Homo sapiens: one gene and its partner. The protein of the gene in region 1 interacts with the protein of each later gene in a pairwise test. Each region holds a gene or a part of one and is shown in the gene's direction. Other genes may lie near its edges.

Region 1 (3,500 bases):
GCATAAGCTAATTTCCAGATGGTGATAAATGTGGTGGGGGAAAAATACAGGGTACTGCTATAGAGAATGATTGTAAGTGAGGGTGGGGTTATTCTTGATTGGGTGGTGAGTGTGTGGGAGGAATATTTTAAGCAGAAAGAATGGCTCAGCCACAAAATGGAAATAAGTTTGAAATGTTGAAGGACAGAAGGCCAGTGTGGCTGAAGCATTTAGGAAGCTATTATATAGTCTAAAGGAGTTGGTGGTTTGGTCTAGAATGGTGGTAATGGAAATGGAAAGAAACGGACAGCTTGGGAATATATTATAAAGGCAAAGTCAACAAATTGGATGTAGGTTATTAAGGAAAAAAGAAATCAAGGATGAATCCTTTATTTCAGGCTTGAGAAATTGGAAGGAGGATGGTTCCGTTTACTGAGTTAGGGACTGTTGGGAGGAGCAGATTTGAGAGGGGGGATATTAAGGGTTCTATTTTTAATATGTTAAGTTCAAGAATAGATGACTATTGGATATCCATGTGGAGCTGGCTAGTAGGCAGTTGGAGATTTGAATCCAGAGTTTAGGTGAAACAGTATGATGAGAGATTTTATTTATTTATTTTTATTTTTTTTGAGACAGAGTCTTGCTGTCGCCCAGGCTGGAGTGCAATGGCGTGATCTTGGCTTACTGCAACCTCCGCCTTCCGGGCTCAAGCAATTCTTCTGCCTCAGCCTCCCCAGTGGCTGGGATTACAGGTGCCTGCCACCATGCCCAGCTAATTTTTGTATTTTTAGTAGAGATGGGTTTTCACCGTATTAGCCAGGCTGGTCTCGAACTCCGGACCTCAGGCAATCCGCCCACCTAGGCCTCCCAAAGTGCTGAGATTACAGGCGTGAACCACCGCGCCTGGCCGAGATTTTATTCTTAAATGAAAGTTAATATGTTAATTTTTGTTATAGTTAAGTCTTGGACACAGGAGTCATATTTTCTTGAGCCTGCAAGTGATTCTTCTGTTGGAGAAGAAAGTGTTCCCTGAGAGAGGAGGCATTTTCAAACCTTAATATACGTTCTGATTTCAGCCTAGGAGATATGGTGGTGCCCAACCACTGTAACTGTTGGGGATGTAATATAATCCTCACAAGTTTTGGAACATAAAGGTTTAAGAACCGTTGTTATAAAAAGATTTTGAATGTCTCTAGTATCATTTTTGTTAATTCTTAAAGGATGATCTACCCTTTTTTCCAAGGCTTAGGGTATACTTAACCCTGTTGACTTCTGGTACTGTAGAAATTAGGCACAAGTGTCGTAGGGTGGTGACATTAGTCCAAATAATGAAGATAGAGTTTTTTAATTAATTTATATTAGCTCATCATTTTGAGAGTTGAATACTACTTTATTGGTATATCCTCTCATATGTAGAGAGTCTATTGGTTTTGAAAGTATCAGAAATACCTTTAGTAGGCAAACAAGGGTCAAAAATGATCCTTAAAGTGACAATGTTTTATGTATGTATACATTCATCCCTCATTATCTATGGGCGATTGGTTCCAGGACCTCCCAATGATATCACAATCCGAGGATGCTCAAATCCCTGATATAAAGTGGTGTAGTATTTCCACATAACCTTTGCACATCCTCCCATACACCTTAAATAATTTCTAAATTATTTGTAATATCTAGTACAATGTAAATGCTATGTAAATAGTTGTTATACTGTATTATTGGGGGAATAGTGATGAGAAAAATAAGTCTACATATTCAGTAGAGATGTATTTTTTTTCTAAATAGTTTTGATTGGGAATTGATTGAATCCACAGATGCTGAACCCACGGATACAGAGGGCCAGTTGTATATATATTTTCCATTTCTGAGTCCAAGAAGACAATTAAAACAGAATCAAGTATTTTTTCCTCCCTGTTGAATATTTCCAGAAAATACTGGGTTATTCTAACAGGGAAAGTAAATTGGAATTTGGCGAATTCACCAAAACATGCTAGAATAATCATAACCATCTACTTCTAGGCGTAAGAAGTCCTAAGTCTTCCCAAAGATTCAGGTGTTTTATAGCCATTTAAGAAAATATGTATATAATACTCTAATACATTATAATTAAGTTAAAACATACTTGCACATTATACAAAATTCAAAAGGCCCAAAAGGGAAAAGTCTTCTCCCTTCACCCCCTAGCCACACATATCCTCTCACTAGAAGTGACTTTTGTCCCCAGTTTCTCTCATATCCTTCAAAAGATATTTAGTGAATATACAAGTAGTCCCTCACAGACACACACTTTTTAACCTAAGTGGTAACATAGTGTTTTGCTACCTTACTTTTTTCTCCCTACTTTCCAGTATAAGGCATAGTTATGTTTTTTAAAAAGCCTGTGTAGGTCCACAACTATGGATGGTGATAAACATCTACCTAGTTCTTTAATTTTATTTTCCCATTATTAGTCCCAGTTCCCTAATGTAGTAATCTAAGTGGACTTGATTAAAACTGAGGAAGAGGCCGGGTGTGGTGGCTCAAGCCTGTAATCCCAGCACTTTGGGAGGCCGAGGAGGGCAGATCACGAGGTCAGGAGATCGAGACCATTCTGGCCAACATGGTGAAACCCTGTCTTTACTAAAATACAAAAAATTAGCCAGGTGTGGTGGTGTGCACCTGTAATCCCAGCTACTTGGGAGGCTGAGGCAGGGGAATCGCTTGAACCTGGGAGGCAGAGGTTGCAGTGAGCTGAGATGGCGCCACTGCACTCCAGCCTGGCGACAGAGCAAGACGCTGTCTCAAAAAACAAAACAAAACAAAACAAAAACACTGAGGAAGAGGTAGTAGGAAAGCTAATTCCCACTTGGCATCTCTTTTGTAATTTTTATTTCAGGGTATCTCAGTCATAAGAGAGTTGGAATTCAGTTTGATCCAAATTGATTGAAATGATATAGTATTGTACCCACTGAATCTCCAGACATCTGTCTTTATTTTCATGCTTGATCTGCTTTCCCGAGTTTGACGTTATTTCTCAAATCAGCTTACTGTGGAAAACTGAATTAAGAGAAAGTGGTGGGCGGGGCGTGGTGGCTCACGCCTGTAATCCCAGCATTTTGGGAGGCTGAGGCAGGTGGATCAAGAGGTCAGGCGTTCGAGACCAGCCTGGCCAATATGGTGAAACCCCATCTCTACTAAAAATACAAAAAAAAAAAACAATTAGCTGGGCGTGGTGGCACGCACCTGTAATCCCAGCTACTCAGGAGGCTGAGGCACGAGAATCTCTTGAATGCGGGAGGCGAAGGTTGCAGTGAGCCGAGATGGCGCCACTGCACTCCAGCCTGGGAGACAGAGGAAGACTCCATCTCAAAAAAAAAAGAAGAGAGAGAGAGAAAGTGGTGTGATGAATCATCATTCAGGAAATATTAAACCCTTGAGATATCAACTTTGAGTTGTTCCGAGTAGGTGAGAGGTGAAGCCAGCTGGGTTTCTGGGTTGGGTGGGGACTTGGAGAACTTTTCTGTCTAGCCAGAGGATTGTAA
Region 2 (3,500 bases), on another chromosome or scaffold:
TTTGAGATGGAATTTCACTCTTGTTGCCCAGGCCTGAGTGCAATGGTGCGATCCCGGCTCACGGCAACCTCCGCCTCCTAGGTTCAAGTGATTCTCCTGCCTCAGCCTCCCAAGTAGCTGGGATTACAGGCATGTGCCACCACGCTTAATTTTGTATTTTTAGTAGGGACGGAGTTTCTCCATGTTGGTCAGGCTCCATGTTGGCCAACCTCTCGTGATCCACCCACCTCGGCCTCCCAAAGTGTTGGGATTACAGATATGAGCCACCGCACCTGGCCCGACCTTGCTGATTTTTTTTAAGCTTTCTCTCTGCAGTGTTCCAGCCACACTGCACTGTGTTTCAGTTCCTCGAATATGCTCTCTCACTCCAGGCCTTTGCCCAGAACAGTCATTCTTGCTTATCTCCTGACCTTGTTGACTTCTACTCATCCTGCAAGTCTTAGCTAAAGGACTACGGACTCCATTTAGGTCATCTTGTATGCTCATGTAGCACCCTATGCTTCCCTATTGAAATGCTCATCACATCTGTAATATACGTGTTTAATTTTCTGTCTTCTTAGCTACACTTGAAAGTTCCTTAAGTTACATCTGCCACACTCACTGCTATATTACCAATTCCTAGAACTGTGGTGCATAGTAGGGAGCCAACAAATATTTGTAGAATGAGTGGAATAAATGAAACTTTCAGAAGACTCAGGAAGTGATTTTTAGAGATAGACTGAAAAAAGAACGTTGATGATAATCATATTAAAGCAGACTCTTTTTTGCTATAGTTAATAATGTATTCATTGATTTATAGTAATTTTGTTAAGCCATGTTAAATAGTAATTTTAAGACTGCTTAAACATTATTTCCCTTGACTACTTTGCACTACTAGGTCAACTAGATCTCTTTGGTTTCTTCTAGTCCCTCCAAACAGGATTTGTGGGTAGAATTATATATAATCTAATGTAAATCAGTACGGTATTCTTCAACTGGGGTTATTTTGATATACTGTGAAGCTAGTGTATTTAATACATGACCATTGTTAACCTTAATGGTCCTGCCAAAAAAAAATTAGACTTGTGGCAAAAGCCTAAATTTGTATCTCTATGCTTTATCTTTCTCTGAACCTTCCTTTTCCTCACCAATAATTTCACATTATTATATTATAAAAATAAAACATAAGTACATCATTTCTTTATTATGACATAAAATAAATTTCTGGTACTTTTTCTTTCCCACATCAAATGAAAGAGCTCGTTTTATGCATATAAGGGACCAAAGGTAGTTGGTAGATATTGATTCTTCCTTGATACATGTTGCTCCCTTAATCTATAGCAAACTACATAGCTTTGGCAGTTTTGACATTTTTTTTGACTACTTAGTTGGTTTTAATTCCTAGGAATAGGAGAGATAATTGTTAATACATGGGTGCTGCTAAAACTTACTTGTCATTCCAAAAGCTTCAGCAACATCACTTATTTATTTGTTTATTTATTTATTTTTAGACAGAGTCTCACTCACTCTGTTGCCCAGGTTAGAGTGCAGTGGCTCAATCTCTCCTCACTGCAACTTCTGCCTCCTGGGCTCAAGTGATTCTTCTGCCTCAGCCTCCCAAGTAGCTGGGATTACTGGCGTGTGCCACCATGCCTGGCTAATTTTTTATATTTTTAGTAGAGATGGGGTTTCACCATTTTGACCAGGCTAGTCTCAAACTCCTGACCTCAAGTGATCTGCCGGCCTTGCCCCAAAGGGCTGGTATTACAGGCGTGAGCCACGACGCCCAGCCCTTCAGCAACATTACTTTTAATACAATAGAAATTTTAGATTATTCTGCCCATCCCCCTCACTTTTGTGACCAAGAAAGCACTGTTTACAGGTCCAGGATGTACTGTTTAAAGGTTAACAAAAGGAACTTACAGAGTCCTGCAAAAACAAAAAACAAAAGAACCATGAAATTGGAGAACTCAAAACTCCTATTCCACCAAACCAACCACAAATGATTTTTTAAAAAAACTTAAACAGGGTGGAGTGCTTGAGGTCAGGAGTTCAACAGCAGCTTGGCCAATATGGTGAAACCCCACCTCTACTAAAAATACAAACATTAGCTGGGCGTGGTGGCACCCGCCTGTAGTCCCAGCTACTCGGGAGGCTGAGGCAAGAGAATCACTTGAACCCGGGAGGTGGAGGTTGCAGTGAGCTGAGATCGCGCCATTGCACTCCAGCCTGGGTGACACAGCGCAACTCTGTCTCCAAAAAAAAAAAAAAAAAAAAAACTGTCAAACAGCTCTCATATATCTGAAGTTGGCTAGAATGACAGAAAAGAGCACCATCAAACTGGGAATCTTGTAAACTATCACTGTGCCCCAGATGTTACAAAAATGAGCAAGAGGAAATAAAATCTAACGAGAGCTTGTTGCAGATAATCAGGAAATAACTGTTTATACAGATCAACTTTGGAGACTACCTGTTCCACTCGGAAACAGGTAAAGCCTGTTAAGTCTAGCCGGTCGTGGTGGCGGGCGCCTGTAGTCCCAGCTACTTGGGAGGCTGAGGCAGGAGAATGGCGTGAACCTGGGAGGCGGAGCTTGCAGTGAGCCGAGATCACGCCACTGCACTCCAGCCTGGGCGACACAGCGAGACTCTGTCTCAAAAAAAAAAAAAAAGAGAAAGCCTATAAGTCTGTACTCCAAACAGAATTGAATATACTCAAATAAGCATTTGAGGGTATAAAAATGTTTACCTTGGCTTAGAATTTTTAAAACTATTAATAAGAATGGAAATGATGACTAAAGGAGAAATGAAAAAAGAGTTGATGAAACAAAGGGAAGAAATGGAAGAAAAAGACAATTACCTCATAAGTGAATAAATTGTAAGATACCTAAGGGAAAATAGACTGAAATGAAAGCAAGAGGCAATGAAGAAAGGCATAAAAACAACGAAGAGAATTGAAAATGACAAAGAAAAAAGTAAGATGAATCCGAGAAAGTAGGGAATGGTAGGTAGATAGGCAAAGACATAATATTCATATTATCAGAGTCCCTGAAGAAGAAAAAGAAATGGAACATAATTCATGTTTAAAAACATAATCCAGCAAAAGTTTCCAGAAATTGAAAAAAAAACTAAATCTAGAAAGGGTTCCCTAGGTACCTGGAAAAATTAACCCAGACTTATTGACTTTTGGGATATATTTTAGTACAACTATTAGATTTCAGAGATAAAGATGAAATCATCAAGTCTTCTGTGCAAAAAGAACATATAACTTACAAAGGCAAACTTACAAAAAGCATCACATGTTGAAAAACTGACATACAAAGCAAGGCAACATAGAGCAGTGTTTTTTTTTAAAGCTCAATGAAGGTGTGAATTGAAGGATTTTATATCTAACTGAATGTTCTCAAATGTCAAGGTTATAGAAAAAGAGTTTTCGACATAACGAAAACCTGGGTAATTTCTGTACCTGCTGGCCATTTCTGAGGAATATACAAGAGAATGAGCTTTATCCAACCAATTGATGA

What was found. The genes of interacting proteins can lie anywhere in the genome.
Region 2: the proteins of KATNBL1 (region 1) and SNAPC3 interact in a two-hybrid assay, tested with the Homo sapiens proteins (one large-scale study listed by BioGRID and IntAct).

The regions. Positions count from the first base shown.
Region 1 is NC_000015.10:34,200,097-34,203,596, reverse strand, and holds part of KATNBL1 (KATNB1-like protein 1), read left to right. Parts: intron 1-3,500.
Region 2 is NC_000009.12:15,425,876-15,429,375, forward strand, and holds part of SNAPC3 (snRNA-activating protein complex subunit 3), read left to right. Parts: intron 1-3,500.